Homo sapiens: one gene and its partner. The protein of the gene in region 2 purifies or fractionates together with the protein of the main gene of each other region. This does not show direct contact. Each region holds a gene or a part of one and is shown on either strand. Other genes may lie near its edges.

Region 1 (3,909 bases), on a different chromosome or scaffold from region 2:
ATCATCTTGATGCCCAGGAGTTCCACCAGTCTGGCCAACATGGTGAAACCCCGTCTCTACTAAAAATACAAAAATTAGCCGGGCGTGGTGGCAGGCGCCTGTAATCCCAGCTACTCAGGAGGCTGAGGCAGGAGAATCACTTGAACCCAGGAGGTAGAGGTTGCAGTAAGCCAAGATCGCACCACTGCACTCCAGTACCTGAAAGAACTCGGGGATGAGAAGTCAACATCTGTTGAGTCCTGTGCGGGGGAGTGGAGCCAGTCACTTTTGTAAAAGATACTTAATTGAGTCACAAAGCTGGCATGTGGTAAATGACTGCAGATGCTCCCCAATTCCAACAGGAAAAAAGCTCCTGGGCCCTGCAAACAAACACAGCCACAATCTGTCCTCTGCTTCCTTCTCTCCAGGCATGTCTAACAAGCCCCCCTCCTCACACTTAAGTCATACCAAATGCTGTTTGGGGACTCCTTGCCTTCTCGGGTATTGCCATTGGCAGGAATGTCTTTTTTCCTTGGCCTTCTGGCAAACTCTTCTTCTAGAACCATCCTTTGAGACCCCACACTACCTCATGTGCCCCCTATTCTCAGTAATGATTTCCCTAACAACCACCTCCCCCATAAAAGAACAGGACTCGGCCAGGCAGGGTGGCTCACGCCTGTAATCCCAGCACTTTGGGAGGCCGAGGCAGGTGGATCACAAGAGGTTAGGAGATTGAGACCATCCTGGCTAACACAGTGAAACCCCGTCTCTACTCAAAAAATACAAAAAATTAGCCGGGTGTGGTGTCGGACGCCTGTAGTCCCAGCTACTCAGGAGGCTGAGGCAGGAGAATGGCGTGAACCCAGAGGCGGAGCTTGCAGTGAGCCGAGATCCCGCCACTAGACTCCAGATTGGGCGACAGAGCAAAACTCCGTCCCCCTGCAAAAAAAAAAAAAAAAAAAATGCAGGGCTGGCCGGGCACAGTGGTTCACGCCTGTAATCTCAGCACTTTTGGAGGCCAGGACGAGTGGATCACCTGAGATCAGGCGTTCGAGACCAGCCTGACCAACGTGGCGAAACCCCGTCTACTAAATATACAAAAATTAGCCAGGCGTGGTGGTGTGTGCCTGTAGTCCCAGCTACTCGGGAGGCAGAGGCAGAAGAATCGCTTGAACCTGGCAGGCGGAAGTTGCAACGAGCCAAGATTGTGCCACTGCACTCCAGCCTGGGCAAGAAGAGCGAAACTCTGTCTGAAAAATAAATAAAAAGAGCAGGGCTGCCCACTGACTCTCTGGTGTTTCCCATTTCTAGTACTAACCTCTTCTATGAAACTTTTCAGAGACAGGCTCTTGCCGTCACCCAGGCTGAAGTACAGTGGCGCGATCTATCACAACTCACTGCAGCCTTGAATTCCTGGACTCACGACACCCTCCTGCCTCGGCCTCCCATGGAGCTGGGACTACAGGGGCGTGCACAACCACACCCAGCTAATTTTGCGTAGAGATGGGGTCTTGCTATGTTGCTCAGGCTGGTCCCAAACTCCTGGGCTCAAGCGATCTCCCTGCCTCGGCCTCCCAAAGTGCTGGGAATACAGGCGTGAGCCACTTCGCCTGGCCTCAGTGAAACTTATTTCACCGTGTTTTTCACTTACATATTTAGGTGTTCATAATACAGATGTACTTCTCCTTTACTGGACTCCTTACAGAAAAAGACCCCAAAGCCTATCACAGGGTCATAGATGCCCAGTAAATGCTGCTGCACATCACAGAATTGGTGCTTTTTCCGAGATCGCGGCCACGGAGCAGGCTGAAGAGTTTACGGTGCTCTCCTGGCCACCCCGGGGACGGCCTGGCCTCGGCCACAGAGAAAGCCGCAGTAAGGGGCCCAGGTTGGAGCCAGTCCCGCCCCAGGAGGTGCGCCTAACCCGGCAAGGCGGGTCCCCGTCTCTGGAAGCGAAGCTCACGTTACCAGAGGAGAAACTGAGGCCCATGGAGTCGCCGGGCCCCACCAGCCGCGGGCCCAAACCGCAGGTCGGACCACGAGGAGGCCGGGAGCCGGGACACCGCGGGCCGCCCCCACCCGACCCGGCCCCACTTACAGGCGGGCCGGCCGCTCCTCTCCTCCCCCGCGCGCAGCCACCCCCGCGCTACCGCCGCCGTCGCCATCAGGGCCAGCAGCCCAAGCAACACCGACAGCCCCATGAGCTCCGACATCTGCGAGAGCTCCATGTTGGTGGAACCACTGCCACCTCAGCTAGTGAGTACGCGGGCGCCCGCACGGCTCTGCCGGGCCGCGCACGCACGCGGGGGCGCGGCCTGGCCGTTGGGGAGCCTCAAGCGGCTGGGCCTGGCCGTTAGAGCGCCTGGGGGCGGAGCCTGGTTGTTACAACGCCTTCAGGGCGGGGCCTGGCCGTTAAAGCACCTCAAGGGGTGGGGCCCGGCTGTTGTGGCGCTCGAGGGGCGGGGCCTGGAGTTAGAGCATCTCCACCCGCCGAGCCTAGTTATTAGAGCGCCTCGAGAGGCAGAGTCTGGAGTTAGCGCGTCTCGAGGGGCGGGGCTGGGTTGTTAGAGCGTCTCGAGGGGCAGAACCCGGAGGTAGAGTGTCTCGAGGGGCGGGGCCTGGAAGTAGAACATCTCGAGGGGCAGGGCTCGACCCTTGGTGCGTTTCGAGGGGCGGGTCGCCTGGCGGTTGAGATTGCAGGGCTGCGGAGGGCGGAGGAAGGCGGGATTTGCGATCACTGCTCACGCCTCCTCCTGAAGAACTCACTGATAATTGTTTATTAAAGGCATTATTCCAGCCATCACCACACTGGATCCTTTCAAGGAAGCGGGGCGGGGATTATTATTACCATTTAACGGATAGGAAACTCAGCATCAGCGAAAGTTCAGATGGGCTTTTAAGGAAGAGTAGGCCAGGCGCGTGGAGTGGAACAGCCTCCGCAAAGACCTGAGAAGCTGGGATGTGGGAAATGGCTAGAGGGGCGGAAAGGTCTGGGGGACGTTGAGCGCTGGCTCCATCCAACAAGCTGCTCATTACAGGGAGAGGTGGGGCAAAAGCTGTGTCTGAGGATTCCCTGGATGGACCTTTGTGTGAAAAGACCAAAATCAGAAAACCGGCAGTGGCTTCAAGGATCCGAGAGGGAGGTGACGAGGGCCTGGATTTGGGGCTGGCCTGGCAAGTCGAAAGTTAAAAGGGAGAATTTTTAATAGAAAACTTATTTTATTTATTTATTTATGTATTTACTTTTGAGACGGTTGCCCAGGTTGGAGTGCAGTGACGCGTCTCGGCTCACTGCAACCTCCGTCTCCCGGGTGCAAGAGATTCTCCTGCCTCAGCCTCCAGAGTAGCTGGGATTACAGGCGCGTGCCACCATGCCCTGCTACTTTTTGTGTTTTTTATAGAGACGGGGGTTTTGCCATGTTGGCCAGGCTGGTCTCGAACTCCTGACCTCAGGTGATCCACCTGCTTCGGCCTCCCAAAGTGCTGGGATTACAGGCGTGAGCCACCATGCCGAGCTGGGAGATTATTTTTATTTTTTATTTTTTGAGATGGAGTCTCGTTGCACTGTCGCCCAGGCTGGAGTGCAATGGCGCCATCTCTGCTCACTGCAACCTCTGCCTCCCGGGTTCAAGCGATTCGCTTGCCTCAGCCTCCCGAGTAGCTGGGATTACGGGTGCCCGCTAGCATGCCCCGCTAATTTTTTGTATTTTTTAGTAGAGACGGGGTTTCGCTATATTGGTCAGGCTGGTCTTGAACTCCTGACCTCGTGATCCGCCCGCCTCAGCCTCTCAAAGTGCTGGGATTACAGGTGTGAGCCACCGCGACTGGCCCAGACCAGGAAATTTTTTCATAGAAAACTTATTTTTTTTTTTGAGACAGAGTCTTGCTCTATTGCCCAGGTTGGAGCGCAGTGGCGCGATCTCGGCTCAC
Region 2 (3,909 bases):
ATGATAAACTGATTGTAAACTTGTATCATTAAAGTTGTTTGACAAAAATATCTGGCTTTTAACTCCCAGAACTTTACGTTACTGTTCTGTAAGTGCTTCTTAGCTATGTAAAACAAAAAGGCTAACACATTAGTTTTTTGGATTTTGTTGTTGTTGTTAGCAAAGAGCACATAGCAAAACAAATATACTACCTCCCAAAATGGCAACTACAGCAAAAGACCATTACTAAGGAAGCTCTCCTCCAAGCAGCACTTCTCAAACATAGCTACAATTTAGAATCATATAGGGATATTTAAAAAATACCAGTACATAACACCCACTCCAGACCAAATAAATCAGAGTATCTGGGGATGGGTACAAGTGTTTTAAAAAGTTCCCGAAGTGGGCCGGGCGCGGTGGCTCAAGCCTGTAATCCCAGCACTTTGGGAGGCTGAGGCAGGCGGATCATGAGGTCAGGAGATCAAGACCATCCTGGCTAACCCCGTCTCTACTAAAAATACAAAAAATTAGCCAGGCGTGGTGGTGGGCGCCTGTGGTCCCAGATACTCGGGAGGCTGAGGCAGGAGAATGGGGTGAACCCAGGAGGCAGACCTTGCAGTGAGCTGAGACCGCGCCACTCCACTCCAGCTTGGGTGACAGAGCGAGACTCCATCTCAAAAAAAAAAAAAAAAAGTTCCCGAAGTGATTCTAATGTGTAGCCAGGGTTAAGAATCACTATGCCAAGGAAATCTAAGCCCTCCGTGTTATCATTGCATACAGAGCTTTTGTCCTTAATTGTCTGAAGAAATATTCATTTTATTCAGCCAATTTGCAAACCAAGAGAGTAAAACAAATAACTACTAAAAGGGGTATTAATTATAAGTACGCTTAGCTAAACATGTTAAGCAGAAATCAAGGCAAAAGTATTCCATTAATAATGTTTTAGATAACAGGTACGTTCAATTAACATGTCAAATATGCCAATAAACGAACTATTTCCATTTTTCAAACCGCAGACTTTACAAGCTGTGAAATGGTGCTATGCTTTCTGGTGTATTCAAGAGCCCACTAATTCCAAAACAGCCATGCTGAAACGACTGTCAACCTTAAAAATTGAAAGTCCCAAATGTGTTGCAGAAAACACACAAAAAAAAACCTCAATAAAGATTAGTTAAACTGGGCCGGGCACAGTGGCTCACAGCTGTAATCCCAGCACTTTGGGAGGCCGAGGTGGGCAGATCCCTTGAGGTCAGGAGTTGGAAACCAGCCTGGCCAACATGGTGAAACTCTGTCTCTACTAAAAATACAAAAATTAGCCGGGCGTAGTGGCAGGCACCTGTAATACCAGCTACTTGGGAGGCCGAGGTGGGAGAACTGCTTGAATCTGGGAGGTGGAGGTTGCAGTGAGCCAAGATCTTGCTATTGCACTGGAGCCTGGGCAACAGAGCGAGACTTCATGCCAAAACAAACAAAAAAAAAATTACTTAAACTGAACTTTAAGGTTGTGTAACTGCCAGAGCAAACCTTTTCATGCTTTCATGCACATGCTATCTCTGAAAATACTGTCAGAAGTCTGAAATTCAAACGCATGCCTACATTTTTGTATTTGGCTACTTAACTGTTTCACAGGAAAACTAAATAAACTAAGCCTCAAAAACAAGTATTAAAATATGCTGCTGTGGCCAGGGAACAGTGGCTCACGCCTGTAATCCCAGGACTTTGGGACGCCGAGGCAGGTGGATCAATTGAGGTCAGAAGTTCGAGACCAGCCTGGCCAACATGGTGAAACCCCATCTCTACTAAAAATACAAAAATAAGCCAGGCATGGTGGCTCGCGCCAGTTTTCCTAGCTACTCAGGAGGCTGAGGCACGAGAATCGTTTGAACACGGGAAGCAGAGGTTGCAGTGAGCCGAGATCACGCCACTGCACTTCAGCCTGGGTGACAGAGCAAGGCTCCATCTCAAAAAATAAAAATACTTATATATGCTGTTGTGTTTCCCCAAAACTGTACTACGGGGGTCCTCATCTTTTACTTAAAATCCTTAAGAACAAATGTGCTTCAGAATTTTTCAGATTTGCCCCGTCCGGGAAGGAGGTGGGGGGGTCAGCCCCCCGCCCGGCCAGCCGCCCCGTCCGGGAGGTGAGGGGCACCTCTGCCCGGCCGCCCCTACTGGGAAGTGAGGAGCCCCTCTGCCCGGCCAGCCGCCCCGTCCGGGAGGGAGGTGGGGGGTCAGCCCCCCGCCCGGCCAGCCGCCCCGTCCGGGAGGGAGGTGGGGGGGTCAGCCCCCCGCCCGGCCAGCCGCCCCGTCCGGGAGGTGAGGGGCGCCTCTGCCCGGCCGCCCCTACTGGCAAGTGAGGAGCCCCTCTGCCCGGCCAGCCGCCCCGTCCGGGAGGGAGGTGGGGGGTCAGCCCCCTGCCCGGCCAGCCGCCCTGTCCGGGAGGGAGGTGGGGGGTTCAGCCCCCCGCCCGGCCAGCCGCCCCGTCCGGGAGGGAGGTGGGGGTGTGAGCCCCCCGCCCGGCCAGCCGCCCCGTCCGGGAGGGAGGTGGGGGGGTCAGCCCCCCGCCCGGCCAGCCGCCCGGTCCGGGAGGTGAGGGGCGCCTCTCCTCAGCCGCCCCTACTGGGACGTGAGGAGCCCCTCTGCCCGGCCACCACCCCGTCTGGGAGGTGTACCCAACAGCTCATTGAGAACGGGCCATGATGACAATGGCGGTTTTGTGGAATAGAAAGAGGGGAAAGGCAGGGAAAGGATTGGGAAATCGGATGGTTGCCATGTCTGTGTAGAAAGAGGTAGACACGGGAGACTTTTCATTTTGTTCTGTACTAGGAAAAATTCTTCTGCCTTGGGATCCTGTTGATCGGTGACCCTACCCCCAACCCTGTGCTCTCTGAAACATGTGCTGTGTCCACTCAGGGTTAAATGGATTAAGGGCGGTGCAAGATGTGCTTTGTTAAACAGATGCTTGAAGGCAGCATGCTCGTTAAGAGTCATCACCACTCCCTAATCTCAAGTACCCAGGGACACAAACACTGCGGAAGGCCGCAGGGTCCTCTGCCTAGGAAAACCAGAGACCTCTGTTCACTTGTTTATCTGCTGACCCTCCCTCCACTATTGTCCTATGACCCTGCCAAATCCCCCTCTGTGAGAAACACCCAAGAATGATCAATTAAAAAAAAAAAAAAAATCAAAAAAAAAAAAAAAGAATTTTTCAGATTTTAGAAAAGTAACACAGCGTTTACACTCAAACAGACCCTATGGGGTCTAAAGTGCACCAATAACCAAACAAATTAATATTCCAAGACAGAACATAACTATTTATTAAGTGAGATAAAGATTATTCAGTAGCCTCCTGTCAGTACAAGTCGGCAAATTATTTTGCAGCAAACTTCTGAAAAAAGTTCCTTATTCAGAGCTTTGAATGAGGCAGTAATTCAAGATTTCTCTTTCATATTCAAGATACTGCAACTGGGCTGCAGAAAAAAAGTCACTATGATGAAAACATCCTTTTACTACAACTGTAATTCCACAGAAACAACTCAAGTTATTAGGGTAAATCCAAGAAAAAAGTCCAAGTGGTGCCCAACAATTTTCATAATGATTAGAATAGCATTTAAGTATTCACCTTAATTTTCATAACACAATTTTGAGCAAGAGCAAACAAATACATCAAAATATGCATATGGACTAAGGCAAGCCTGAAGCAGAGAGCCGGATGTAAAACGGGCAAACTGACACCCATAATAGTTCACCTAACTTTCTATCTAGCAGTATGGAAACCACACAGGGCTCTGAAGCTAAGCGACCAATGTTCTAATCCCAGTTCAACCATACAGGAAAATTACTTACATGCTCTACCCTCAGTTTCTTTACCTGTAAATGGAGATAATAATAGAACCTACCTCACTGCATTGCTGGAGTGTGGTGGCACGA

Evidence for each region.
Region 1: the proteins of SEC63 (region 2) and TBL2 purify together in Homo sapiens (affinity purification with mass spectrometry; 2 studies listed by BioGRID and IntAct, with this or other methods). This does not show direct contact.

What each region holds. Positions count from the first base shown.
Region 1 is NC_000007.14:73,576,343-73,580,251, forward strand, and holds the start of TBL2 (transducin beta-like protein 2), read right to left. Parts: upstream 2,238-3,909; 5' UTR 2,208-2,237; coding exon 2,078-2,207; exon of another isoform or gene 1,970-2,077; coding exon of another isoform or gene 1,948-1,969; exon of another isoform or gene 1,631-1,947; intron 360-1,630; exon of another isoform or gene 230-359; coding exon of another isoform or gene 199-229; intron 1-198.
Region 2 is NC_000006.12:107,951,318-107,955,226, forward strand, and holds part of SEC63 (translocation protein SEC63 homolog), read right to left. Parts: intron 1-3,909. UniProt on the Homo sapiens protein: Mediates cotranslational and post-translational transport of certain precursor polypeptides across endoplasmic reticulum (ER). Proposed to play an auxiliary role in recognition of precursors with short and apolar signal peptides.